Regions from separate parts of the Homo sapiens genome. Here region 2 is linked to region 1. A link means that fine-mapping ties the variant in region 1 to the expression of a gene that starts in the linked region. Tissue or cell type: subcutaneous fat. Region 1 holds a variant in brackets; the other region holds the start of a gene. All regions are shown on one strand. Distances are between the middles of the regions. Region 1 has its middle 38 kb from the start of ECRG4. Region 2 holds the start of ECRG4 (ECRG4 augurin precursor).

Evidence for each region. PIP is the estimated chance that this variant, and not a neighbour inherited with it, causes the effect.
Region 2: it holds the start of ECRG4, and the variant in region 1 is fine-mapped to the expression of ECRG4 in subcutaneous fat (GTEx, PIP 0.98).

What each region holds. Positions count from the first base shown.
Region 1 is chr2:106,020,539-106,035,662 of GRCh38, reverse strand. No RefSeq gene overlaps it. Among named protein-coding and RNA genes, the nearest start is that of ECRG4, 38 kb to the left of the region's middle. The variant T/C (reference allele first, on the strand shown) is at 8,628.
Region 2 is chr2:106,057,784-106,072,907 of GRCh38, reverse strand. It overlaps ECRG4 (ECRG4 augurin precursor), which reads right to left and starts at 7,220. Exons shown (of 4, transcript NM_032411.3): 1 at 7,065-7,220; 2 at 1,017-1,064. The coding sequence starts at 7,143.

The DNA.
Region 1 (15,124 bases):
GCCCCACACCCAGTTTCTCCTATTGTTAATATCTTACATTCCTATAGCACATTTGTCACAATTAATGAACTAACACTGACGCGTAGTTATTATTAATTAAGTCCAGGCTTTACTCAGATTCCCTTCGTTTTTGTTTTGTTTTGTTTTTTAGACGGAGTCTCGCTCTGTTGCCCAGCCTAGAGTGCAATGGTGTGATCTTGGCTCACTACAACCTTCGCCTCCTGGGTTCAAGCAGTTTTCCTGCCTCGGCCTCCTGAGTAGCTGGGATTACAGGTGCCTGCCACCATGCCCAGCTAATTTTTGTATTTTTAGTAGAGATGGGGTTTCACCATGTTGGCCAGGCTAGTCTCGAACTCCTGACCTCAAGTGATCTGCCCGCCTCAGCCTCCCAAAGTGCTGGGATTATAGGCATGAGCCACTTGCCCAGCCCCCCCTTCGTTTTTATATAATGTCTGTCTTCTGTCCCAGGATCCCATCCAGGATATATTATATTAAGTTGTCGTGTCTCCTTTGGCTCCTCTTGGCTCTGACAGTTTCTTAGACTTTGCTTGTCTTTGGTGACCTCTCCAGTTTTAAGGAGTGCTGGTCAGGTATTTTGCAGAAGGTCCTTCAATTTACTTTTGTCTGACATGTTTCTTATGATTAGACTGGGGTTAGGATTTTGGGAGGAAGATCTCAGAAGTAAAATGCCATTCTCACTGCATCACATCAAGAGTCCATACATCAGCATGACTTGTCGCTGTTGATGCTAGTCTTCATGACCTGGCTGAGGCAGTCTCCGTCTCAACCCTGACATTTTCCACACCGTACTCATTGGAAGGAAGTCACTAGGCTCAGCGTACAGTTACTTGTGGGAAGTTATGTCCCACCTCTTTGAGAAGCAAGTATCTACATAAATTATTTGAAATTCTGAATAGGAGTTTTGTCTATTCTACCCTGTGTATTTAGCTATTCAATCCCTTATTTATCTAACTACAAACACACTGTTGTTGTTATTTTATACTTTGGGTTATAATCCAAATTACATTATTTACTTTGTTGCTCAAATTGTTCTGGGTTTGGCCATTGGGAGCCCTTTCTGTTGGCTCCTGTGTTCTTTTGATGTAATCCCAGGCTTTTGTGGGTTTTTCTATTTGTTTTGTTTGTTTGTTTTGAGATGGAGTCTTGCTCTGTCACCCACTCCAGGCTGGAGTGCAATGGCGCAATCTCAGCTCACTGCAACCTCAGCTCACTGCAACCTCTGCCTCCCGGGTTCAGGTGATTCTCCCACCTCAGCCTCCCAAGTAGTTGTGATTACAGGCATCCCCCACCATACCCGGCTAATGTTTTTGTATTTTTAGTAGAGACAGAGTTTCACCATGTTGGTCAGGCTGGTCTTGAACTCCTGACCTCAAGAGATCCACCTGCCATGGCCTCCCAAGTGCTGCGATTACAGGCCTGAGCCACCACGCCCGGCCACATGCTTTTGTTTTCTGAGGTCCTTCTTATCTTCTGTGATTATAAGAGGTTCCAAGTTCATCTCCAGGTGCATTTCCCACCACAGTCTTAAACTCAGCCATTTCTCCAAGGAGCTCTGGTTCCTTTAATGGCATTAGAAACCAAAATCAGGGTGATGAGTTAGCTTGTCATTACCAGGGTTCATTGATTCTAGGCCCTTTCAGCAGACAGAGTTTGGAAATATATGAGGGTGGGTCTACCTGTGTGTGCACACATATCCAGAATTATTTCCATAATTATTGATCTGTATCTACGTTAAGCTAAACATGAGTCTAGACTAATGTCTCACACAGAGAACCACATGGTTCATTCTAGGCATTCCCTTGGCTTTCTGTAACCATTTACTCCAATAGAGAGAAACCTGCCTCCCACCATCCATCATCTTTTACTAATAGTCTTAATCCAAGTATACATGTAGAGAAGTATCAAAATTGTTAACCCAAAGCACATAAGAAACAACTTTATCAGCTGGAGTATAGTACTTCTGTATTGTTTCTTTTGTCTTTAGTCCTGCAGGCTCCACTCATTTCCAAGTTACTCAGATCATCACCTTTTCTCCTGCCTCCTTCAGTGAGGTTATGCCACATTGTAATACAGTTAGATTGTTTTGCCACAGGCTGGATTCCATCCTGGGATTACCAATCTCCCAACTGATAAATTCATAGTGTCATGTCTCCACAACTACAGTGCCTTATGAAATAATTTCACGGCTGTAAAACAATTCTGGGTGCTTTCCCTATTCCTCCCCTCTTCTTCCCCAATCCCCTGATGAACATAAATCTGTTTTCTATCTCTGTAACTCTTCCCTTACTAGAATATCATAAAATGAAATCATACAGTATGCAGTCTATTCATGCTGCCTCCTTTCACTTAGCAATATGCATTCAAGATTCATCCACATTGTTGTTTGGACTGAGGGTCCATTCCTTTTTAATTGTTAAATAGTATTCCATTGTATGGATATACCATAGATTGCTTATTCATTCACCTGTTAAAGGACATCTCAGTTACTTCCATGTTTTGGCAATCATCGATAAAGCTGCTATAAACATTTGAGTGCAAGTTGTTGTGCAGATATAAGTTTTCACATCAGTCGGGTAAATACTTTGGAGTGCAATTGCTGCATTATATAGTGAGAGTATGCTTAGCTTTGTAGAAACTGTCAGACTGTCTTCCAAAGTGGCTGTACCATTTCTCTTTCCCACCAGCAGTGAATGAGACTTCCTGTTGCTCCATATCCTCACCAGAAATTGCCATTGTCAGCTTCTGGGATTTTCGCCATTCTAATAGATGTATACTTGTGTCCCATTGTTGTTCATTCCACTTTTAAAAATCCACATTGGAGCATGGCCAATTTGGAAACAATTTTTCACTGGCCCTGGATTTGATGTTGCTTTTTTTTTTTCTTTGAGATGGAGTTTCACTCTTGACGCCCAGGCTGGAGTGTAGTGGCCCATGTTCTCAGCTTACTGTAACCTCCACCTCCGGGGCTCAAGCAATTCTCCTGCCTCAGCCTCCTTAGTAGCTGGGATTATAGGCGCCCGCCACAATGCCTGGCTAATTTTTTTGTATTTTTAGTAGAGATGGGGTTTCAGCATGTTGGCCAGGCTGGTCTCGAACTCCTGACCTCAGGTGATCCACCCCCCCTCTGCCTCCCAAAGTGCTGGGATTACAGGCATGAGCCACCGTGCCCAGCTGACATTTTTTTTTAAAGATAAGATTTTACGTGTCCTTTGCAGCGACATGGATGCAGCTGGAAGCCATTATCCTCAGTGAATTAACACAGGAACAGAAAACCAAACACCACATGTTCTCACTCATAAGTGGGAGCTAAACTTTGGGTACTCATGGACAAAACAATGGCAACAATAGAAACTGGGGAAGAAACTGAGGCAGCAAGTGTTGAAAAACTATTGGGTACTATGCTCAGTACCTGGATGGTGGGATCAATTGTACCCCAAGTCTAAGCATCACACATGTATACTCATATAACAAACCTGCATATATGCCCCCTGAATCTAAAATAAAAGTCTAAATTACGGCCGAGTGTGGTGACTCACGCCTGTAATCCCAGCACTTTGGGAGGCTGAGATGGGCAGATCACTTGAGGTCAGGAATTTGAGACCAGCCTGGACAACATGGTGAAACCCCGTCTCTACTAAAATACACACAAAAAATTAGGTGGGCGTGGTGGCTGATGCCTGAAATCCCAGCTACTCTGGAGGCTGGGGCAGGAGAATCGCTTGAACCTAGAGGCAGAGGTTGTGGTGAGCCAGCCGAGATTGGGCCACTGCACTCCAGCCAGGGTGACAGAGCGAGACTCTGTCTCAAAAAAAAAAAAAAAAGTCTAAATTATTTTTTTAAAAGATATTTTTTCAAGGCCAAAAGTCTTAATGGAAACAGCAGCAACTGATTCCTCAGTGTACCTGAATCCATGGACTTTGTTAGTATGTAAACAGAAGTGTCCAGTTGCTTAAGGCCTGTAAGGAAATAATAAAGTGAACAGAGAATGGGGGAGAATACAAGATCAGCTTTCGTCAGAGCAAAAAATAATTTTTTAATACTTCATTAAAATAATTAGGCCAAGCATGGTGACTCACGCCTGTAATCCCAGCACTTTGGGAGACTGAGGCGGGTGGATTGCTTGAGCCCAGGAGTTTCAGACCACCCTGGACAACATGGTGAAACCCTGTCTCTACAAAAAAAAATACAAAAATTAGTGGGGCGTGCTGGCACATACCTGTCATCCTAGCTACTTAGGAGGCTCAGGCAGGAGTATTGCTTGAGCCCAGGAGGCAGAGGTTACAGTGAGCTGAGATCATGCCATTGCACTGTAGCCTGGGTGACAGAGTGAGACCCTATCTCAAAAAAATAATAATCACAGTTAAGAGAAACGCAGGTAAAGAGGCAAAAACCTGTTACTGATGGGATGCATTGGGAGATGGTGTGGAATTCCCACTGGGTACAGCACCATTTGTTTATGAACAAAGATTCAAAGGTAAAAGTCCACCTTCCATCTCTCATGAACTATTTCACAATTACAACGTTCCATGTAGTGTGATGCAAGTTTTCAACACCCTGATGCTGAGAGCAGCTGGCTGGGGGTGGAGTGGGAGGGGAAGACGAGTGGGGACTGGAAGGGACAGTCCCCGCCAGTCCCACACTCATCTCGCTGAGTAAAGATGAGCCCCTAAGCCACGGGGGCCTCTGCTTGGCTAGTTGCTCTGCCAGCCCATTAATACTCGACTACTTAGTACAGGGGCCCGGACAGGGACAGTGCCACCCCAGGCCTGGACAGCACAATGCCAGGTAGTGCTTCTACTGTGCTGTGCCTGATTCACAGGCCTGATGGCTTCTCCAGGAGTCCCATCCTGAAGGCACGAGCTAGTCTATTTCAGGCAAGTTCTTCCTGTTTTCCAGCAGTCTCTGACTTACTTGGCTCCCCTCCCTCCTTCCTTACATTCCAGGCACAGATCTGTTTACACAACTGTACTTGATCTGAGAGAACAGTAGATGCCAGAAAAGGAAGCGCAAGCTCCCGCAGCTCCCCAGCACCCCTGCCTTCTTCCTCACCCACCCTTCCCTTCCCGCTCTTTCCCCTCTCCCCTTCCTCCTTGCCTTACTCACTGTTCATAAAATCTTTGGATCAGCCACAGAATCACATTCTGCAGCTTGAATCAAGATCTCCGGTCTCAGAGGAGACAACGCTGCACCCTCTGCTGACCTAGAAAATCTCCCCATCCTTCCTGTACATGGCATGTCTATTTTTAAAAGCCAGGAATAATTTTCTATTCCAGAATTTTCAATTGCAGTTTTTAAAATCTACCTAAAATGACACGGATGGATCTCAAAGTATCATGTTATATATGAAAGAAACCAGACGTTCAAAAGTACACTGTATGATTCTATTTTATATGAAGTTCAAGAACAGGCAAAACGAAGCCATGGTGATAGAGGTCGGAACCGTGGTTAAACCTGGAGTGTGGGGTATTGGCTGGAAGAAACGCAAAGACACATTCTGGATGTGGGAAATGTTTCATATCTTGATCAGGGTTGTGGTTACATGAGGGGTGTGTGTGTGTGTGTGTGTGTGTGTGTGTGTGTGTGCGCCTAAAAAGTCATCAAGCTGTACACTACATTGTGCACTTTGTATAAATTATATCTCAAAAAAGTACAGGAAAAAAGTTTCCCTGAAGTGAATGGACTAAACTGTGAATGCTGAGTGCAAAATAATAGATAGAAATCCCCCAGAGCCCTTCATTGAACAGAAGCCCAGAGAGGCTAAATGGCTTGCCTGCAGACACACAGCCAGTTAGGGCCAGACTCTGATAAGAGGCAACAGAATATGCTGCCTAGTTCCCTATGGCTGGGATAATTTCTTCTATCTAGGTAGTTTTCTTATTTTCAAAGGGAAGTTTTAAGGCATTTTCTTACTGGAAGGGGGTTGATCAGATTACAGCACCTGGACCCATCTATTCCATGAGATGTAGGTCAGAGTATGCTTAACACCTCATTCTACAATCTGTGGATGTCCACACCCTGCCCAAGATTTTTGCTGGGAAAATTGGAGTGGTGGGGTGTGTCAGGATTTACTCCTTCTCCTGTTCATATACTGTCAGGTCCCAAATCTCTGTTCTTCTCAGACTAAAAAGAAAAAAAAATACAGCTTCTTCTTTGATTTCCACATAGAGTCACAGAGCAGATATTTATCATGCATTTTAATCCAGCCTTCCTAGATTTGAGACCTTGAACACCTGGGAGTCTCTGTGGAGCTGGTTTGCTGTGCTAGCCTCTCTTGCCTCCAGGGCTCAGGCAAGTCTCCCAGGGAAACAGAGAGATGAAATCACCAGAGACCCTGAATCAGGGGTAGTGACACTGGTGAAGGTGGTGGCAGCTACACACAGGTTTCAGAGAGAGCAGTGGCAGGACCTTAGGCAAGGTGGCCTATATCCTGCCATAAAGGTTATCTCATCAGCTGGCTCCGGATGTCTTGGAGAAGTAACTCGGCTGGTTAACCCTAAGGGGAGGTGAGGTACGGAGGGCATGGGTGTTGGTGGGAGACCAGGCAGCCACAGAGGTGGCCTTGGAGGCCTGCCTCCAAGGAGATGGTGGTGCATACTGCAGCATCTATGCTAGAAATGACCACAGTGTGGGCTCCACCGGGCCCATTCTGGGGTGAATTGGGCATGACCGTTTACCATAAAGTCTCCAGCCCAGTTCTCTGGTCCCCAGGAGTTCTTCGATCCAGCTAATACCCTTTACCAAATGCATTTGCTCCTCAACTAGCCAGAATAGGTTTCTGTTGCTTACAACTTGGAACCTGGCAGGATGGTGGTAATTTTGTATGTAATAAACCCTGCTGAAGATTTGGAGGAAACAGGATTGCTTATATCACACCAATGCAGACAAGCAAGTTTCCATAGAACCTGAGATGTACATGTCCTCAAACCCCTTTGGAAGCTCCACCAGGCAATTCTCCCCCATCATGCACCCTCACCCTGCCCTGAAAAGCCCCAGGTTCACCAGATCAGGCCAACTCCTTTCACTATTTCCTCCCTTTCAGAAGCAAGGCAAAACTTCTCTCATTTTCTCCAGCCAGAGCACTGGGGCCACCTCTGTGGCTGCCTGGTCTCCCACCAACACCCATGCCCTCTGTACCTCACCTTCCCTTAGCAGTTAACCAGGAGAGTTGGTTCTCCAAGAAGGCTGGAGCCAGCTAGTGAGATAGTAACTTTTATGGCAGGAAATAGGTCACAGAGGTGTGAGCAGAGGTGTGGCCATACTGTGCCACGCCTTCTATCCTCTTGTGTGGCAAGCCTAGAGGCCAAGTGATGATGGAGGCGCAAAAGATAGTGGAAACCAAGGTCCAAGTCACACCTTTAAGGAGAGCCATGCCTCCTCTTTCGACCAGGACAGACAAGGAAAAAACCTTTCACTGTGTTGTTGGAGAGATTCAGACGTTGAAGGTGGCCATGTTCAGCCTTCCTGGGTAGTACCCTAAATAAAGAAACGCTAGTCACATCCAGTGACCCATGGGGCATACACCTTGGTTGCTGAAACACTGAAAACATATTTTCTTTTTAAAAAAATGTTTATTTATTTACTTTTATTTTAATAAGATTCAGGAGTACAAGTGCAGTTTTGTTACACGAATATATTGCGTGATGCTGAGGTTTGAACTTCTAGTGTACTCATCACCCAAAGAGCGAACACTGTACTCGGTAGGTAATTTTTTAACTCTCACAACCCTGACCCTTCCCACTTTTGGAGTCTCCAGTGCCTATTATTCCACTCTGTGTATCCACGTATACCATTGTTTAGTTCCCACTTAAAAGTGAGAACATGCAGTATTTGATTTTCTGCCTCTGAGTTATTTCACTTAGGGTAATGGCCTTCGGCTCCATCCATGTTGTTGCAAAAGACATGATTTCATTCTTTTTATGGTTACAAAGTTATTCCATGGTGTATATATACCACATTTTCTTTTTCTTTTTTTTTTTTTTTTTTTGTGAGATGGAATCTTGCTCTGTCGCCCAGGCTAGAGTGCAATGGTAAGGTCTCAGCTCACTGCAACCTCTGTCTCCTGGGTTCAAGCGATTCTCCTGTCTCAGCCCCCCGAGTAGCTGGGACCACAGGCATGTGCCACCACACCCAGCTAATTTTTGTATTTTTAGTAGAGACGGGGTTTCACTATGTTGGCCAGGCTGGTCTTGAACTCCTGACCTCAGTTGATCCGCCCACCTTGGCCTCCCAAAGTGCTGGGATTACAGGCGTGAGCCACCGCGCATGGCCTATACCACATTTTCTTTATGCGATCATCCATTGTCGGACACTTAGATTGGTTCCATGGTTTGCTGTTGTGGCTACCACTGTGATAATGTATGACTGCAGGTGTCTTTTTGATATGATGATTTCTTTTCCTTTGGGCAGATACCTAGTAGTGGGGTTGCTGGGTTGAAGGGTAGTTCTATTTTTAGTTCTTTGGGGAATCTCCATACTGTGAAAACCATATTTTCTCATGTAAAAACAGGGTCCCCATGACCAGGTACGAGAAGTATCCTGGTGGCATGGGAGATCAGATTGGGGCAGCTCTGAAGGATGCTCCTTCGGGGCCCAGCAGCCACATGCCT[T/C]TTCCATTTCCCATGGCCTCTGCTCTTTGGAAGGTCTCTGTGTCAGTCACCTCCAACTTAGTGTAACTTTTAAAAATGTGTTGTGAGTCCTTAGGTCTTGCATTCCATCCTTATCTCTCTTCAGGGAATTAAAGTACTTGCCTTGGGGATTATGGGTTTCAGAAAGGAATTGAGGGGAGGTCCTTTGAGGAATACAACATCTTTTCTGCCTCAACAACACTCAGATGACCCATGTATGGTAAGTTGACTGTGGCTGTGAACCCATCACAATGTACACAGTAATGAGACTGATTCCTAAACCAACGATTTTTGTGGAACTTGGGAGTTCATTCTGCCCAGCCTGTCTTCCTTCCAGGATGGGATTCCCCTCCCAGTTGCTGATAGTCATAATTCGAGGCCAAGTCAGGTCATCTTGCAATGCTGAGGACCTTTCCACACCCAGGGTGACCTCTCCCATGGCTGGACAATGAGAATTTGGAAATTTCTCCTAGTTTTATCCCCAAGCCCAACCCTCTTTAATTCGTTGACTTAGTTCTACTATCATAAAACATTAGAGCCCCACCTATAACCCACTTAACCACATCCTTCTGTGTCCTAATCGCCTTTCTATTTCATGTCTTTTTCCAACCTTTCTTTTCTCTTTACTTTGATTTTATTATCTAGATGCTGGGATTTCATTTTGTCTTGTTGGGTCATATGAATCTTTGTAAGTAAGTTGCTGTTGATCCTTTTTGAAATAAAACAGGTTAAAGGAAAAGAAAAAGAAAGGACATTCTTTCTTTTTCATGTATTCCCCCATGAGATACACAGAATAAGTCAAAGCTTTTTTTCACATCAACCCGTCAAATATTTGAAGGCAGCTGGCCAATATCCCACGGGCCTCCTCTCCTAAAGACACACATTATGAATGGCTTCAGTTCTTCCAAAGATTAGAAGGTTTCCAGATTCTTCTCCATCGCAGGTTGGCCTCCTCCAGGGCTTCCCTGGTTAGCTAACAAGCTCCATTAAAATTCCCAGTGGGACTGAGGCCTGCTGAGACCTTGTGTGAGGGGACGTGGGCAGTCCTGGTATTTCCTGCTTGCCTGACCCTGTGCGTCTGATACCAGGCTTCAGAGTGGGGCAGCTTCACCACCACCTGCTGCTGCAATGTACTTGAGCCCTTGCAGAAACTTGTGTCCATAGCTCTTTTTCTGACTACACAGGAATATTTCCTTTGTTATCTTAAAGCAGTTTCTCAAACATTTAAAAACGATAGTTCCCTTTTCACATACCTAAAATTCTTATGCCTCCTTTTAATGTTATTTTAAGTTTCCAAGAGGCATTTTTTTCAAATATAAAGGTATAATATTGCACATCTTCCTATGCATCCTCCCTCCACCTGCAGGGTGTAGCCTCTTCTGAGAAGCACTAGAGTCACATCTTCGTCTTTTTGACCAAATGTGCCATCGTCCTGCCAGATCACCCACCTTCACCAGGGCTCTAAAGAGCATTTGGTTGGTTCCAAAAATAAAAACACTCCCAAAGACAAATATTTGTTAGTACTGGGAATTGCCCCCAAAATATGAGGCAGAGTCTAAACTCAATGTCCCGAAAGGAGTGGACTGGAATAAATGCTTAGGCTCTCAGAGCACCTAACTGAAGGGTACTACGCTCACTTATCAGGAAAAAAAAAAAAGAAAAGTCGACCATATTATTACTTTCTAGTCACATTTTTATTCAGGCCCACACATGAGATCTGCTCCAGGGCAGAATTTTGCAAGGAAAAAGAGGTGACACCTCTGTGAACAAGAAAATGCTTTTCCCTGGTGCCTACGGGGACATATGCTCAATATTTCTAATTTCTGAAATTCAAAGCAGTGAATAGTGGTTTATCACAAAGTTAAAGGCAGGATTTAAAATCTGGTATAGATCTCATTTGTAGCCAGAGGAGGTTGAGAAAGAAAGAAAACAAGAAAGGAAGAGAGAGAGAAGCAGAGAGAAAGAAAGACAGAGAAAGAGGCAGAGAGGGATAGCAAATGGGGAAAGAGAGAGACAGAGAGGAGAAAGAGATGAAGACATAGAAGGGGAGAGAGAGAAGGAGAAAGACAGAGACAGAGGAGAGACAGAGAGAGACAGACAGAGACAGAGAGGGAGAGAGACAGAGAACATAATTGGAAAAGTAAGAAAGATCTCTCCCATCACACTGTCTGTACTAACATCCCAAACTCAGCCCCCATCCCAGAAAAAGACAGAGAATAAGGAAAGGGAAGGATACATCTAGAAAGGGAAGGACGCATCTAGAAAGGGAAGGATACATCTAGAAATAGAGTGTCAGGTCAGAAGAGCTTAGTGAAGGACCCTTATGAGCTAAATTAGGGTTCCATGAGCCAACCTTCACCATAGGTCCCTCTTGACTCCACACCCTCAGCCAAGCCACCTGTTAGATTCTCCTGGGGCCCCTGATTTCACAGGCCCCAAGGCCCTGCCTGAGGGACAGAACAGCCCAGGGTGGGGAATGAGGCAATCGAAACCAGGGAACTCCTTGAGCTGCTAGTGTAGGCGGAGGGCAGGAGGGAGAACACATCTCCTCACACACTTCTTACGTCTACCTTTTACCTTGTAGAAAAATGTCAAAAGTCTTATTTATTGTAGCCAGGAATGCAAGGCAGGTTTCAAATTTTGGAAAGGAAAGAGCAACCTCATGTTCATTTAAAATCATAATTTAAGTCATAATTCTCCCCCCTCCCCGCTTCTACTCCCCAACTTTGGGCTAGCTGAAGCTGGTTTTAGGGCATTCCGTTCCAAGTTTGCATTCACAGATTTGCAACTTGAGTGAGCTGAGCTGGGTAAAAGAATAGCCCAGCTTCGGATGAGGACACCTGTGGGTGCTGCGTTGTCCTCATTCCTCAAGGGGAAGAGAGTGCAACAAGGATGCTTGCAGCTGCTCAGATGCTGGCTCAGGCACAAAGCATCTTCCAGCCCTGACAATGGTGCCATTTTTCTTCCAAGACCAATTGCTAAGTCCTGCAGGATTTCAGGCTTCATCAGAGATATTAAGAGTGAGCAAAAACCTTCCTGACACCAGTTCCCAGGTGTAGGGAAAACACTCAAACTTCCTCTGGGAGGTTTCCTGGCTCCTCTGATGTGGTTGCAAGAAACAAACCAATAGTAGTTAGCCAATGTGATAGCAGAAATCCACGGCAGGCAGAATAATGGCCCCAAAGATGTCCACATCCTAATCTCTAGAACCTGTGAATATATTAGGTTACATGCCAAAGGGCTATCAAAGTTGCAGATGGAATTAAGACAGCTAATCAGCTGACTGTCTTGGGCAGGTGGGCCCAATGTGGTTGCAAGGGTCTTTATAAGTGGAAAAGGGAGGCAGAAGAGAGGGAGCCAGCGAAATGCAGCATGAAGAGGACTCAGCCTGACTTTGCTGGCTCTGAAGGTGGAGGAAGGGGCCACAGCCAAGGAATGCAGGTGGCCTCTAGAAGCTGGAAAAGGCGAGGAAACGGATCATCACCTGGAAGGAAGATAGCACTGCCAACACCGTGATTCTAGCCTAGCCGTGATGGCAGGAAGATTAAATCATAAACCAGTGAAATTTGGGGGGTGAGATAGGCTCAGAGTGTAAGAGGTAAAGGACAGGAATGACTATCACTTTTTATGTAGTTTTGACTTTGTTTTTTCTTTTGAGACAAGTTCTTGCTCTGTCTCCCAGGCTGGAGTGCAGTGGTACACTCACAGCTCACTGCAGCCTCAGTCTCCTGGGCTCAAGCAATCCATTCGTCACACCTCAGCCTCCTGAGTAGCTGGGACTACAGGTATGCACCACCATGCCAGGCTAATTTTTGTATTTTTTGTAGAGATGGGGTTGTGCCATGTTGCCAGGGCTGGTCTCAAACCCCTGAGCTCAAGCAATCTTCCTGCCATGGCCTCCTGAAATGCTGAGATTACAGGCGTGAGCCACTGTGCCTGGCCAGTTTTGACTTTTGAATTATGTGTTTTACATATTCAAAAATAAAATTAAATCAAAGAGTTTTTTAGAAGCACTCTAAACTTGGATAAACACAACACAATGATATACTATCTACCAAACTGGTTACATAAGTACATAGAAAAAAAGAATTAAGTAACTTAAAAGCTGAGCTCCAAGCATACACATTTAGTTGGACTTATTCTAAGGGTAAAAAGACCTGCAAAGAAATCTTGATCTTAGGAGTTTTGTTGTCAGTACTGGTATCGATACTGTGATTCTGGAATATTTTGAGTTATGTCCTAGAATAAAGCAATGAGTAAGGAAGAAGAGAGATACAAATATGGTGTGGAGGATATTGAGGAAGAACTCGGCAATGTATTTGTGTTGAATTGTCTTTGAATTGAAGATATCAGTATAAATCCATGATTCCAAAGATACATTCCTTAGTTCTCTCCACTGAAAGGGAGACACACTGAGGCCCTCATAGCAATGAGCATATGTAGGCCCCAGATCTTGGTTTCTTTCACCCGGATCTAAGTATCACTCTCTATCAAAAGCAACCAGGATTCCTTGGTAAATAGCTAATTTGGGTGTTGAGCAGGAAAAATATAAGATGAGCCTGGAAGTACTCAAAGACCATAGTGACCGCTAAAATGTGGCCCAGCTAGGAACCAAACCTAGGTCTTCAAATGTCAAACCCAGCAATTATTTCTACTTCACTGCCCTGTATTTCCCACCATGAAATCTGCTCCCTACTTTACACAATCTATATTTTGGTATCACTTTTAAATATTAGAATTTTGTTACAGCCATCGAAGTGGTATCTTTCTCATTTTATTTTCTCTCCTTTAATAGAAATAAAGCTTTTGAAAAGCCAATCACCAGCCTACCCGAGCATCCAGGATTAGGGTCTGTACTTCTTTTATGTTCTTGAGCAGCGTTCCTCATCCTTTTTGGCACCAGAGACCAGTTTCATGGAAGATAATTTTTCCACGGACAGGGATTAGGGGGAGTATAGGGGTGGGGAAGGGTGGTTTTGGGATGAAACTGTTCCACTTCAGATCATCAGGTACAGATTCTCATAAGGAGCATGCAACCTAAATCCCTCATATGTACAGTTCACAATAGGGTTCATGCTCCTTCGAGAACTAATGCCAGGCTGATCTGACAGGAGGCATGGCTCAGGCAGTAATGCTCACTCACTCACCTGCCACTCACCTCTTGCTGTGCAGCCCGGTTCCTAACAGGCCACAGATTGGTACCAGTCTGTAGCCTGGGGGTTGGGGACCCCTGTTCTTGAGCTCCAAAGCATGCCTGCTAAAACTCTGCTCTGAACATCCAGACCCAGCCTAGGGTAAAGAGACAACTCAGAGAGATGGATCCTTCTGCAGCGTGGCCTCCTGGTTGAGGGTGGTTATTTTTTCTCTGCATTAGTTACCCTCGTTCTTTATCTGGAGAAGGAGCAAATGGAAAAAAGGGGAAAGAGAATGAGACTTTTCTTTTAATAAGTTGAATATTGACCCTGGCCAACAAAGATTTTGGCAGCACAGATTGAAATGCATTCCTGAAACAGACTGGAAGATCTCCTTAATATGCATCAACTGCACCAAATTCAAAAGCTATTACCTCTTACGTTTTCCTTCCATCCACAGGAGGCCCCGCCCTTTGTAAAACAAACAGTTGTCAGGGGGCCGATTCCCCAGTATGGTCACTGTGCAGTGCTTCAACATTTGTTATCACCGTACCATTAATTTCCACACACATCTGCTTGAGGATTTCTTCCTGCCCCGGATGGCATGTTCATCTCCATCTAATTCACATTTTATTGCCCTTGTCTTGCCCCTAGCAAGCGTTATCAAGTGCTGTAAGCATTCCAGAGCTGTGCCAGGTGGCTGGGAGGCCCTCAGCCCCATTCCCTGTGGTTTGAGGCTGCGCTTACAGCTTTAATTTCCAGTCAGCTGTAATTCAGGACCACAAATGGCCAAATTGAAAGGGCTCGCTCACTTCCAAAAAGCATCTCACCAGTAGCTCCTAATTACAGAGCCAAGTGCAAACGACACTGCCTTGCTTGGAAGAGAAGTGAGGGCTCTTTCTCTCTGCTTATTTTGGACACCCTGGGTCACTGAACAACTAAATCTACACTGGAGGATGGCTGCTCCCATTTCCCAGGGGGCCTGGCAGAGGTCCCAAAAGGCAATTTCCCAGGCATGCCTAGTGTGGAGGCCCTGAGAAACGTCGGCTGAAATCAAGCCCTGCCTGGGCTGCTGCAATATTTTCCAGCCAGTGCATCTCAAATGTGAGAAGTGCACAGATCATCTTAAAGGGAAAAAAACTACACAAATTAAGAATACAACTCAAAGGACCCTCTTTAAACAGTGCTGCAAAAAAACAAAAAACAAAAAAACAAAAAACCTAAAATCTCATTCCATGCAAATGCCCTTTAATTGCATTAGCACTGCAAGAGTTCTGTCTTTATAACTGGTATAATTTAGAATGTGCTTGCAGCCCTGGTGCAGTTTGGGAATGAACCTATGCCTTA
Region 2 (15,124 bases), 37 kb before region 1:
AAGGAGTTGTGACTGCCTCAGCAGCTTGCTCACCTATGACAAACTGGCTCTGTGAGGGCGTTGTTGATCCCTGGGCATCCGTGAGGTAAGGCTCTGGCCACCACACAGCACAGGGAGGGGGCCCTCTGAGCCGCCTCAGAGATTGGGGGTGGGCCAGGGCTTCTTGGGTGGCTGGAACCCCAGGAAAAGATGCTGGGACCGCCCCAAGCCTGTTCTCCAGCCACCTGTGGGAGGGCCCCTGAGCAGCAACTGGGGAGTGTGGGAAGAATGACTGAGGACCCCACTTCAGGGAGGAAGTTCAGCCTGCTAGAATCCCCCACAAACTAGGAGGGAAAGAATAACTGACTAAATGGTCACATCAGAAGTGTGGTCACACTTTTTCATTTCTAAGGGATTCTTAATTTTACAGATAGAGATGAAAGTTGGGAGAGGGAAAATGACATTCACGAGACCCCACAATTGATCCACCTGATCTGATTACAGCAGGTCCAGAACCTGTGTGTTGTGACCCCCAGACTGTTCAATTTCTATGACATTTTGTTGCTGTCACATTTATCTTAGATGCATTATTCAAAACAGAGGCTAATAACAAGAAAGGCTTTCCTGTTTGAAACCCTTCCCCAAGAGCTCTTTGGATACACGGACTACCGCAACACTGCTGTTCCACGCCTGCCCCACCAACTGAGGATTATGTGTTCCAAAGATAGTCTCTAAAGTGCTCCATGGTCCTAAAATAAATAGCATGCAATTAACACTGTACTACTGTTTCTTTTATTTTTGAGTCCACACTGACAGGTTTCAGAAAAATAACCTTCAGACATTTACTGGCAATAATATTTATCTAATAAGATACCACACCACATACCAACAGAATAAGCCCTTCATATCTGCTAACCTTTTAAGGAGTAAACACTTTTGATTTTCCAAATACAAGACTCCAGTGAGCACAATCCATATTGCCATTTCATTTCCATCCAGTTAAGAATGCATCCCTTATCCATTTGGGGTATATTTACCTTCTCGTTTTTGAAGCATCAGCTTGAGTTTATTTCCACTTATGCCACCTAAAGGAATGAAAATTGAAATCCATATCAGAGTTATACTGCTCCCTTCAATTTATCAAAGGCAAAAATCAGAGTGGGAGAAAAGAACTGCGGGCCCCTGCCTTGATTTGGCAACTTGGTAACATCACAGTATTTAACACTTGCTGTATTCCCTGTCCTGCAGGACAAACAATTCAGGCTGCCCATGGCTAATACTGGTGATAATGACCACAGCCGACCAAGGGTATTACTATTTGAGCTAGTCAGAGTGATGCTGTTCTTTTAGCCCTGTGTCTTACTACGAGGCGCAGCCATCTGTCAAGCGCATCTTCCTGCAAATTTTCACTTCATGGTGTAATACGTTGAATAGTGAATAGTGTCCTCCTGAAACCCCTATCCACCAGAAACCCCTGAATGTGAGCTTATTTGGAAATGGGGTCTTTTCAGATATAATCCATTAAGGATCTCAAGATTTTTATTTTTTTTTTATTTTCTTTTCTTTTCTTTCTTTCTTTTTTTTTTTTTTTTTTTTTTTTTTTTTTACAGCCTTACCCATCACTGAGAGGGTCTCAAGATGTTATCATACGGGATTTAGATGGACAGAAATCCAGTGACTGGTGTTTTTATAAGAAGAAGAGAGGATCCACGGAGGTCACCCATGTGAAGACAGAGGCAGGCAGAAATGGGAGTCAGGCTCCCACACACTGGGGAACTTGCCTTTGCTCTCTAAAAGTGCAGCCCAGTTTTGTAGCTTGCCCAGATCACCCTAAAATCAAGTATGATTTGTACCACTTGCTGTTATTTGTATTCACTTTTAAAAGTGTTTCTGATCAGCTCAATCATTTTTAATAGAAAATACCTTGTCTGGCCTGATAGAACACACGCCTCCACCCAGCGAACTGGCTTGCAGACCTATAGGAGCCTCTGACCCTTAACTGTTGCATGACATCGTAAGTAGTGAGTAGAGCAACTTCGGGTGTAAGGAACTGGAGTCAGGCCCCAGGATGGAGGTAATGGTGACCACTTTCTCAGCAGGGTTCTTAGCCTCTCCTTCCATGGACAGGCTCCAGGGGGTCTAGAAAGGCATGTAAAATTGCGTTTGCATCTGCCAAGGCACAGTTTTCTGGGAATAGGAACCATAGCTTTTGCCAGACTCTTAAAAGTGTCTGTGACCCAAATAAAATTAAGAATGCCTGCTTTGTTTGTGAATTATACATCAATAAAGCTGGGGGAAAAAATAAATGTTTTAAAAGAGAACCTCTGCACAAAGAATTTACTGTGGAGTTGGGGCGAAGAATATATCCATAAACAAGAGTCACAAGCTGGCTGCCTCACCTGAGGCTGCATTTTATTAGCATACCCAGTGTCTACAAATTTTGAATTTGAATGCCTCTCAGCCCAAGTCACTTGGCACACTCATGGTCCGTAAGCAGCCACCTAACCTACTAGCCTCCTGTAGCATTTGGATTAAAGTGCTACCTGGCTGCCTTCAGAGTCATTGGGCCATCCAGGGAGCCTGCTGGCCTGCCCTCTGGGATGGGACGGGGAACCTGCTAGAACTTATTAAGTCTATTTCCTGCTAAGTGCCTCCCTTCTAATTCACGGGTAGGGTGGCCACACTTTCTGGTTGTCCAGGAACAGCCCTGGTATATACCTCTTGTCCTTGTAAATTAATGATAGTGCCTCCTTTTGCTCTCAAAAGTGTTTCAGCTTGGATGATAAATTACATGGCCTCCCAATTTTTTGAGGTTTAATGGCATGGAAATGGCTTCATAAGATCTCTAGGGACCACACTGAAGGGCCAGGGAGGAGAGGTGGTGGTTTCCCTCACACCTTCCCTATGAGAGCTGGGAGTCTGCTGGGTGGCCAGCTAAGATATCGGCGTAGTGCATAGCAGCCTGTGGGAGAGCTGCAGTGGTTTTTGTTGTCTGTGCTCAAGTCGGTCTATAGTGATGTAGTTGTTTAAAAAGCAATTGCAATCTTAGGCTGTTTAATAAAGGATACTTAAAAAAAGAAAGTAACTGTCCTGTCGCTGTTCCATCACAGCTCTGAACAGACCTCCCCTCTACTATTTAGTTCAGTTCACATCATCTCACTTGAAGAAGGTCATAGAAAAACCGGAGTTGTGGTCAAAGGAGAGTGTCCAGAGAGGACTAGCGCCCAAACATGTGTTATATGAGAAGAAATTAAAGGAATTTAGGTGTTTAACCTAGAGAAATAAAACTTGTGGAGCTGGGTGTGGTGGCTCACACCTGTAACCCCAGCACTTTGGGAGGCCAAGGCAGGCGCATAGCCTGAGATCAGGAGTTTGAGACCAGCCTGGTCAACTTGGTGAAACCCCGTCCCTACTAAAAATACAAAAAATTAGCCTAGTGTGGTGGTGCATGCCTGTAGTCCCAGCTACTCAGGAGGCTGAGGCAGGAGAATCGCTTGAACCTGGGAGACAGAAGTTGCAGTGAACCAAGGTAGCGTCACTGCACTCCATTCTGCGTGACAGAGTGAGACTCTATCTCAGAAAAAAAAAAAAGAAAGAAAGAGAGAGAGAAAGAAAGAAGGAAGGAAGGAAGGAAAGAAAGAAAGAGAAAAAGAAAGAAAGAAAAAGGAAAGAGAAAGAAGAAAGAAAGAAAAGAAAGAAGGAAAGAAGAAAGAAAAGAAAATAAAAAAGAAAGAAGAAAGAGAAAGAAAGAAAGAAAAAAGAAAGAAAGAAAGAAAGAAAAGAAAGAAAGAAAGAAAGAGAAAGGAAGAAAGAAAAAGAAGGAAGGAAGGAAGGAAGGGAGGAAGGAAACTTGTGGGAGGAGAGCCAATGCTTTGAGGGGCCACTGGGCCATAGGTTAGGGCATGAAGTAAGGTTTCTAACGCCCAGATAGACAGCCACCCAAGATGGGACAAATGGCCTTGGGGGGTTTGAGATTAAGAGTTGCTGGAGGCGTCTGAGCATAAATAAACATAGATGAGCACTTGACCAGGCTACTGTAGAGGGGATTTTCTAATTAGATGGGGGTGGGACTACTGTTTAACGCTCTACTTCCCTTCCAAACTTAAATTCAATGAAGAAATCTATGAAAATATTTGCCAAGGGAGACAGATATGTTCCTTGGCACTAATAATAGCATTCATTAATGTCTTAACATCTGTCAGTCTCTAACAGCTCACAGGGTAGTACATACAGAATTAAGTATGGCCCCTCCATCTGTTTGCCTTCTGTGAAAGTGCTTAACAATTAATGAATGAAATGTGGTCTGATGTTGAAATAGACACTGCGTGTAGGCATTTGCGATGAGGCTGCAATTTCTTGCAGCAAATGTATGTCACTATTACTCCAGAAATGAGAGCCTCGCCAAACCTTAGCTATAGATGGAAAAGCACAAATAAGTCCCAAATTATGAATTATGAATGTTGCTGCTGTGCCAGGTACTATACACTGAACTCCATATCAGTACATATAACTGGACACTACACTAAATTTGTTTGAGGAAAAGGATAAGGAACAATAGAATAGCTGTGATTTTTTTCTGTATTAAGGACTTTTCACCCAATATCATCAGTTGTTCATTCAAGGCTGCAATAATAAGCACTCCTTAATTTATCCAATCCAGTTGCCTAGCATTAGCTCTCCCAGCAAATTCAGAGCTGCAAAATGCTCCTTTGAAGGTGCTTAATATTAATAAATTGATCAAGAAGGGGTCACGGTCATTTTCTTTATTAAATGTTTGTGAGTGAGGAAGGGCGTGGTGGTTCAAGCCTATAATCCTAGCACTTTGGGAAGCCGAGGCAGAAGCATCACTTGAGCCCAGGAGTTCGAGACCAGCCTGGGCTACATAGTGAGACTCATCTCTACTAAAAATTAAAAGAAAAAAAAAAAATTGCCAGGCGTGGAGTCAACACACCTGTAGTCCCAGCTACTCGGGAGGCTGAGGTGGGAGGATTGCTTGAGTCCGGGAGATCAAGGCTGCAGTGAGCTATGATCACACCACTGCACTCCTGCCTAGGCAACAAAGTGAGACCCTGTCTCAAAAAAAAAAAAAAAGTTTGGAGGTGGCATAAAGAGTCACCTTTGGGATTACATAAAGATTTTCACTGTAGGCTGGGCATGGTGGTTCATGTTTGTAATCCCAGCACTTTGGGAGGCCAAGATTGGTGGATCACCTGAGGTCGGCAGTTTGAGACCAGCCTGACCAACATGGAGAAACCCCATCTCTACTAAAAATACAAAACAAAAACAAAAACCTTAGCTGGGCGTGGTGACACATGCCTGTAATTCCAGCTACTCGGGAGGCTGAGGTAGGAGAATCGCTTGAACCTGGGAGGCGGAGGTTGCAGTGAGCCAAGGTCACGCCATTACACTCCAGCCTGGGCAACAAGAGCAAAACTCCATCTCAAAAAAAAAAAAAATATTTTCACTGTATAAGAACTTTCACATCCCAGCTCGGTGATGATATTTTAACTGAGTTATTGGTATAAACTAAATAAAATACAAGTCCTGAAAATAAATGGCTTGTAGCCAGTGCTCACTTGACTTATTCAGATGTGCTTTTTTCTTCTTCTTCTTTTATTTATTTCTTTTTTTATTTTGCGACGGAGTTTCACTCTTGTTACCCAGGCTGGAGTGCAATGGCACGATCTCAGCTCGCCGCAATCTCCTCCTCCCAGATTCAAGCAATTCTCCTGCCTCAGCCTCCCGAGTAGCTGGGATTACAGGAACGTGCCATCACGTCTGGCATTTTTAGTAGAGACGGGGTTTCTCCATGTTGGTCAGGCTGGTCTCGAACCCCCGACCTCAGGTGATCTGCCCCCCCCCCCCCCCCGGCCTCCCAAAGTGCTGGGATTACAGGTATGAACCACCAAGGCCGGCCCAGATGTGCTTCTTAAAGTGGCAAGAACAAAGAGTGGGAGGCAGGTAAACCATACAACGGGAAATGACTGATTAGCTTCGCCTGTGATTCTAAGGTGGAACAATAATCCTCCCCACCTGAACAGACCTCACCACGCCTCCTGCTGTTTTAGCAACCCCGGGGCTCCATCCCAGGGCTCCTACTGAATGTCCCCTGCCTCTTCTCACCTCGAGTTCAGTTTCCATACCTGTTTCGAATGAGCAAAATACAGAAACTGAGCAACCGAGTGAGCCTCCCTTTTACATTAGGCAGTGCCCAGCTGCTTTGCAGTGGGACAGCGCCAGTCTCAGGCTCTTGGGCAAGTCACTTCATACACCAGTAACTCTGAGGTAACAATCCCTGCCTCCCCTAGTTGTAAGCTTCAAAGGCAGTCATGTGTCCTTGAGGCCACTTGTGAACCATAAATGTTCCTCCTACCCAGTGAAGGTGGTAACTCAGGACAAACCACGGCTTCAGATTATGGTTCCTAAAGTGGGGCCTGTGGAGCCCAGCGATCAGATATCGGAGCACCCATCATTCTGGGTGTGCGTGTGAATGCACGTTTTACAGAGAGCGAGCAGAGAATTTCAGAGTTTTCAACCGATTCGCTGGGAGCTCCACGAAGCAGGAAAGATTAAGCATTACTCCTTTAAGAGCCTTTCCCCTCTCTGGGGTGTGAGGCCTGTGCCCAGCTTTGCAAATTGCAACTTGACCCAGCTGGGAAGCGCAAGTCAACTTGGTTGCTAAGCGACTGCCTGGAAGGGAATGGCGGTGATGGTGCCATTTGCCTCCTCTGGGTTACCAGCTGCGTAAAGCCCCCACAACCCTTTTGCCCCTTACGTTAAGCCACGAAACACTACTTGCCCACCCTTCGGACGCCTGGCCCTCCTTGCCCAAGGTTGCCCGGGAGATCTGAGACCCTCCCCTTGACCCCGGTACTCTCTCCACCCTCACAAGGGCACCACTTCGCACTTGTGCGAGTGCAAAACCCCAGACCCGGTCCTCTACCACCCCTTGGCCCTGCCTAGGCTAAGGATGGGTCCCTACGCCGCCACCCCATCACCGATCGCTCTCCCCGGGCACCATGGAAGCGCCACATGGGGCCAACCCCTGGTGCCGCTATCAATCAGCCTGGCATCGCCCCGCTCACCTGGGCCCCAGCACAGGAGCAGGAGCAGCGCCAGCCCGGTCAGGGCCAGGACAGCAGGCCGCGCGGGGGAGGCAGCCATGGCGGCGGGGCGCGAGCAGGAGGGCGAGGGGCGCACTTCGAGGTGCTGCGAGGGAGAACCGGGCGCGGGAGAGGGGTGCGAGCGGGCAGGCGCGGCCGCGGGTTATCCCTGCGTCGCTGCCGGGGCGGGACCCAGCGGGTGGGCGCCGCGCCAGAGGGCTGAGGGCCAAGCGGCTGCGCCCAGCGCACGGGCGAGTACCACCGAGGTCCTCTCTCCCGCCCCGGCCCCAAGGGGAACGCAGCCCCTGGGCTCCAAGGCCAAGGATGCTTGGCCACGGAGAACCGCCGGCGGCGGGGGCCGCGTGGCCAGCGCTGCCCGCAGCGAAAGCGGTTAGGACAAGCTGGGTTCCGGAGACCCAAGGAAGGGCAGAAGGCATCGGGAGAAGGGACGAGGCCCCCTGGCCACTCAGAGGGAGGACTTGCCGGATCCCAGCGCTGGGGTGTCTCCTTGGCTCCCCCACTTCCTCCGCCCGCCCCAGCCGCGCCACTGTTCCCCTTACTCCTCACCCCTTTCTTCCCTATCTCCCTCCCTCCCTGCTTGGGGGCCTTGCTTCTGCCTGGTTTGTAAAGTGGGCTTTGGAATTTCCTTAGTTCAGAGCTGCTCTTAAGGATGCCTTAGGCGGGGCTGTTTTTGAGATAGTTTGAAAGATTCCACAGTCTGGGTTCAGAGCTGCAGTCCGGGAAATCGTCTCACCCAAACTTCTCCAATAGAAAAGCCTTTGAGAAACCAGGAACCTGGTGCCCTGCAGCTGTGAGCAAAACCACTGCTTCCCTTTGCCCGCTCTGTAATCTGGGCACACTTCAGCGAGCGATGTTAAGGTGAGACCCAAGGGAAACGCAGAACTGCATCCCAGTAACTGGCCTGTTCAACTGTAGAGGACACGTGAAAGGAGGCGTAGTGAACAAAAACTAGAACAACTTTATCCCAACGGACTCTGAGCGGGTCACCTAATTATTCTCTCCAGGCCTGGGCTACAAAAGGATGGAGATGTGAGATTACCTTTCCTGTCTTCCCATCTCAGATCTGCCCTGAACTGAGCTGATTACCTCTTTCCTTCACCAAGGTTCTCACTTATTTTCCCCTCCCTGAGACGGAGTTTCACTCTTGTTGCCCAGGCTGGAGTGCAGTGATGGGATCTCAGTCACTGCAACCTCCAACTCCGGGGTTCAAGCGATTCTCCTGCCTCAGCCTCCTGAGTAGCTGGGATTACAAGGCATGTGCCACGAGGCCCAGCTAATTTTGTATTTTTAGTAGAGAAGGGATTTTACCATGTTGGCCAGGCTGGTCTTGAACTCCTGAACTCAAATGATTCACCCGCATCGGCCTCCCAAAGTGTTAGGATTACAGGTGTGAGCCACCACACCGGCCAGTATTTTTATACCCTCCAGTGGTAAGCACTTACTGTCTCTCCATATAATTAGCTCTCCATGCAATGCAGTTGAATTTCTCCAGCAGGAAGGAGAAAGAAGTCTTCTAACATTGAGCTAGTAAAGACAGATGGTGGCCAACCAAAGAAAAAAGTGCAAAGTGGGTCTGAGTTAGATCATGATACTGCCCAGGGTGTCAGAGAGAATCAGAAGGATAATGTTACACATCTAGCTATCTTGGGGAAGTGCTTCTAAACCCTTGAGGAAACTGTAGAATAGGGGATAGGAGTTTTAAAAGTAACCAGGCATATATTTACTTTTGCCTGAGGACAAGAAATTTATCATTAGAAAGAAAAATCAAAGCACATAAAAAGCCAATATTCTGTTTGGATTGGTTTAGAACATACATTAAACATAATGGCTGTAATCTTATTTATCCTGTGGAGATCATCCCCCTTACCCCAAATTGCTACCAATATCTACTTCTAATATGACATTCAAATTCTCTTCACTTAAGGGGGATCATGGTGGCTCACGCCTGTAATCCCAGCACTTTGGGAGGCTGAGGAGGGCAGATCACTTGAGGTCAGGAGTTTGAGACCAGCCTGACCAACATGGTGAAACTCCCTCTCTACAAAAATGCAAAAATTAGCCAGGCGTGGTGGTGCGTGCCTGTAGTTCCAGCTACTTGGGAGGCTGAGGCAGGAGAATCACTTGAATCCAGGAGGCGGAGGTTGCAGTGAGCCGAGATTGCGCCACTGCACTCCAGCCTGGGTGACAAAGCGAGACACTATCTAAAAAAAAATAAATTATCTTCACTTAATCGGGATATGACCAGAGAGTGTTCTGTAGCAGGGAGCGTCTCACTCTGCCTTCAGAGGGGCCGCTAAACTCATGTGTTCAGCCTGGAGACACTATGTCAGTTCTTATGCTGATATCTAAGTTCCTTTTCATCTGTCTATTTGTTCAACGGTATTTACTTACTGTCTTAGTCCATTTGGGCTGCTAAACAAAATCCCATAAGCTGGGTAGCTTATAAGCAACAGAAATGGATTTTGCACAGTTATGGAGGCTGGAAATTCAAGACTAAGGCCCCAGCAGATTTGGTGTCTGGTCAGGCCCTGCTTCCTGCTTCCTAGATGGCACCTTCTTGCTGTGTCCTCATACGGTAGAAGGGGTGAGGGAGCTCTCTGGGGCTCTTTTATGAGGTCACAAATCCCACTCATGAGGGATCCATCCTCAGTACCTGATCATCTCCCAAAGGCCCCACCTCCTAACACCTCACTTCAGGAATTAGGATTTAATGTATGAATTTAGGGGAGACACAAAAATTCAGTCTGTAGCACTTATAAAATGCTAGCTACATGTGAGACACTATTAAAGGTCCTTTTCTTACTAGTCGCTTAAATTTTTCACCCCTTTAATGTACAAGACCCTCCTTTCTCCCGCTGCTAAGTCTGGTCTGATTTTTCATTCCAGTGTTTCTCAAACTTAGTCTGAAAATCCCAAGGAGCTTGTTAGTGCAGATTTCTGAGTCAAATCCCCTGGAATGACGTAGGTCTTGGGTGGGGCCCAGCTGTCTCCATTTTGTTTTTATTGGCTCCTAGAGGATGCTGTAGTCCTCAGACTGCACTTTGAGTAACTCAGCTCATTCAGCTCTCCACCAAAACGCACCTGCTTCCTAAAGTCTCTACCTGGCCTCACTCAGTTTAATAATGCAGTTTCTCTCCCTTGATATACCATACCAAATGAACCCCAGGACCTTCGTTTCTGCCATGTGACAGTAGCTAAGGACGTGGGCTTTGGGTTCCAGTTCCTTCTGCATTATGCACAAACTGTGTAATTAGATCACCTGTCCTCTCTAGGCCAGAGGTAATATGGGGGCAATATTATCTATCACACTGGGGTAAGAGATCACATGCACAGAGCCTGGTGTACAGTAAGCACTCAACAAATGTTAGAAATTATTTTCAGACCAAACTCCCTCTGGCCTCTGAGCTCCCCACCCAGTGCTCTTACACCTCTCTGATCCTCCCTTCCTTTGGCCAGGAGCTCTCATTGTAGACGATTCCAATCCACTCCACATACCATTGTCACACATTGTCAGACTGACCTTCTCAAACACAGTCCAGACATGGTGTTCCCTTCCTCCACGTGACTCAGGGGCCTCAGTGGTCCTCCCTCTGTGGCTTCCAATTCACAGATACCTGGCAATAGCAGATAGAGGACTGTAGGAAGTGCCATCACTCTGCGAGCGTGCCGTGAGCTGAATGCACACAGGGGAAAGGGGGCAGGGTCTAAGACGGAGCTGCCTTTGATTATGAGAGGCCTCAGAGAGAACAACCACAGCAAGGCCAGGTCCATCTTGACTCTGCCTCCAAGGAGCCAGCAGTAAGAGAGATTCGACAGCCGAGAGGGCTTCATTTTAATTAACATTGCTAAATATTTTAGGTGTGAAAATGGTATTGTATTTGCAATTTTAAAGCCCTGTCTATTAGAACTATATACTGAATTTTTATGGGTAAAGTGATTCAATGTATGGGATTTCACTTAAAATAGTTCAGGAAAAAGATTGGCAAACAGAGATCATTTTTTTGCCAGGAAACCACTTACGCTGTCCTTGACTCCCAGTTATTATATGTTTGGGAGCTATGGTCTGAATGTTTCTGTCCTCCCAAATTTCATCTGTTTAAATCCTAACCCCCAAAGTAATGGTATTAGAGGTGGGGTCTTTAGGAGGTGATAGGGTCATGAGGGCAGAGCCTGCATGAATGGGATTAGTATCCTTTAAAAAGCGTCCTCTAGTGAACTCCCTCTTTCCTTCCGACATGTGAGAGCACAGTGAGAAGGTGCCATCTGTGAATCTATGAGCCAGGAAGTGAGCCCCCACCAGACACCAAATCTGCTGGTGCCTCCATCTTGGACTTCCAGTCTCCATAATTGTGGGAAATCCATTTCTGTTGTTTATAAGTCACCTGGTCATGGTATTTTGTTATAGCAGCCCAAACAGACTGAGACAACAGGGGATTATTATGCTATTCTCTGTACATGTTTATACATTTTCATAATAAAAATTTAAAATATAGACTCTTAGTGGCACTTCATTAGCTATACATATGTAAGAATACATAACATACACAGAGACCTTCAGACTCTCTATTTAGCCCTTAAACATGTACAACAGTGATTTTTTTCTTATGCTTCCTATGGTTTTCCTCATCTCCCCAAAACTCAAAATTCACGCATCAATTCTCTGCATCTTCACAGGTTCATGGCTTTACCTACAACATTCCTAGTCTCTGGGATGCCTTTGGGCCCTTATCTCTGCTACTCAAAACCCTACCGTTCCAGTTACCAATCACTGCTTCAAAACTGATCCCAGATTTAAAGGCTTAGAGAACAACCACCATTTTATTATGATCACAATCCTGGAGATCAGGAATTTAAGAAGGGCTCAAGTGAGCGGTTCTTCTGCTCCATGTGGTATTGACAGAGATCATCAATGATACTCAGCTGGCAGATGGGCTGGACTTGAGAGTCCCAGACAGCTCCACTCACCTGTGTGGCACCTTGGGACGGATAGCTGGAAGGCTTGACTCAGCTGAGATTGTCAACTGAAGTGCCTACATGTGGCCTCTCCAGCATGATGGCTTAGGATCCCAGAGAGAGTATTCCAAGATCAGATACTCCAAAAGACAAGAAGAGGAAGCTGCCAGTATTTTTAGGTCTTGGCCTGGTAACTGACACAAATCAATGCCATTGTATTATATTGATCAAAGCAGTTCACAAAACCTACAGGCATTCAGGAGGAGGGGTATAGATTCTATTTCTCAAGAGGAAGATGTCAAAGGATTTGTGCACATCTTTCATCTGCCACATTTACCCACCTTTCAAGACCAAGCTCTGATGCTACCTCCTCCAGGGGCTTTCCCTGCTTCTCCATTTGGGCCAGGACCACATTTTCTTTCTTTCTTTTTTTCAAAAGAAAGTGTGGTCCTGGCCCAAAAATCTTCTGCTCCCCTGAGTGTTTTCCTATCTTACATGTATTTGGTGCCTTATTTCTCTTTTCTCCCTTGGATTTTAATGTTTTTGCTCCTTAATTTCTTTGTTCTCTTTTTGAATTACCTCATAGAACCAAACGCCCTGTATTTAGTTGATGAGGGAATAAATGTCATCTAAAAGTGGATCTATGATTACACAAATCATGTATAAATGAGATCATTTCATATGACCCTGATTTTGTGTTCTTAAGTTTGATATTAGAAAAGTATGTGGTACATACAACAACAGCTCACAGCAGCAGCCAGGAACAGTGACAAAGAAGGCCCACTACAGAGGGAGAACCCTGCCCAAGGCCAGCCCGAAAACTGCCTAAACAACGGGCCGGCAACCACAGGGTTAACATTCATGCTCAGTGGTGGGCCCTCAAAACTCCTTTCCTGTTTATTAAGCAAATTTCCATGTTGGAATTTTAATAACTTGTGCCATTTGCCATTTGAAATAACTAACTGAAGCCAAAGTCAGGGAAAGGGGGAACATTTCCTTTCAGTCTAAAAAAAATATTGAGAAGCACAAAGTTCTTATTATGTAAGGCTCTAGTTCACAGAAGGGTTCTGTGAGTGGGATTGGCAAAGAGGTGCCCAGGACCCCACGGGTAGATGTGGCCCCTGAGTCACAGGGCCCAGGACCTCATGGGGAGGGGTGGCCCATGAGTGAGTATGAACATAAATTGCCAGCCAGGGGACCTGGACACAGCCAAAGAAGTTGTGAGATAAATGGCCATCGCAGCTGTAAGGGTTCTCTGGTCAAATGAGATGACATTATTCAAACAGATTAACACATGGAATGAGGCCAGTTTCTAGTCTCTTTCAAACTTTAATTTTCAGCATTTTAACTAAAAAGGTACTGAAAATCTGAGGAGAATAGGAAGACTTTATCCAGCCTGCCATGGTTGAAGCACGGATTCCCTCATTAAGACACTCCCCACATACATTTCCTGATTTCCTTTTCCTCATGGGGTAGAGGCCCACGGTGGACTCCTTCGTCTAAAACTCAGAGCAGCACTCAACCAACTGGACACAAATCATATAGGTTCACAGCAGGAGCTTGTAGCTCCATGGATGGTGAGCATCAGCCTTCGGGCACCCAAGGCCAATAGCCAGATGGCTGCTGTCAAAGGTGGGTCCCATGATTCACCAGCCTGCAGTCTAGTTAGTCAGGAACTGGGCAAGATCAGCCTGCAACCTGGCACCAGGGGAGCAGGCAGAGAAAAAAAGACCCCATAGGGGTCACCTAAGTGATTTCTTGCCTATTGAATGACCAAACCAGTCCCTTCAGCTTTGACAGGTATCTTCAATCCCCCAAGTAGTGGGAAAGGGTTCTTGTAGACACACTGCTCCTGACAGTCTTGGAGAATCATTGCTGGGGCCCTTCTCAGCTCTGTGCAGGGCCAAGTCATTAGAGCCAGTTCTCCAACTAAGTGCAGACTACACCCACCACAAGCCACAGAGCCACCCTCAGATAGTTTTCGTTTTTCATTCTTTTAAAAAATGTTCTCTTTTTGTGTGTTGTTTTGTTACATATTTAGTTTTGTTTATGTTGTTTATTTACAAATTTATGTCTATTGTGCACAGGATTTTAAGGCTGCCAATGTAAATGCAACTTTATATGCAAGTGTGACCATGTAGTGATCCTGTGGTTTTGGTGAACATGCAGTTGAAACCAGCTCCCCTCAAGCGCACGTCAGCATTAGAGATCCAGTCCTTCTGTTAAGGCATTATATCACCAAGACACTTTGTTTAAATGAAAGTTTGATAAGATAGTAACAGTAAAACAGCCACCAGTCATTGCAGAAAGGAGAAAGCAGCAAAGGTAACCGTATCTATATTAAGCATTTTATCCAAAACTTGTCTAGGCACCCATGAGGTACGATGGCTGCCCCCGCTCATGTAAAGCCTCTGGTATAAATGGTACTTTATGATTTCCAGATTGACCTCCCTGGGTCCTGCAGAGTGGGCAGGAATAGAGCCTCCATTTACAGATAAGGAACCCGAGGGCTGGGGGATGCTATTGCCAGTCAGCAGTTTGCACCAGCATCTAGGTTTTCTTACTTTCAGTCCCGGGCTCTTACCCTCTGCTCCAGCCACCCAGTCTGCATCTTTAGGGCTTCCAGAGGACAAGCTGTGCTGGGTGCTGTGCTTGGGAGAGTGTGAGGACGAATCCCAGCCCTCAGGAGGCTGTCTGTCTAGTTGGGCAACAGCACACAAACTCTAATGTGACAAGCAGCGGTGACTGTAGTTCGATTTGCAAGCTGTTTGAAAGCTGTCTCAGAACTGGTATTTATTATTATTATTATTATACTTTAAGCTCTGGGATACATGTGCAGAACATGCAGGTTTGTTACATAGCTATACACGTGCCACGGTGGTTTGCTGCACCCATCAACCCATCATCTACATTAGGTATCTCTCCTAATGCTATCCCTCCCCTAGCCCCCAACCCGCCGACAGGCCCCAGTGTGTGATGTTCCCTTCCCTGTGTCCGTGTGTTCTCAATGCAGAACTGGTATTTTAAGGACCAAAATCAATCAAGGTTCGTATTATTGGAAACAAGAT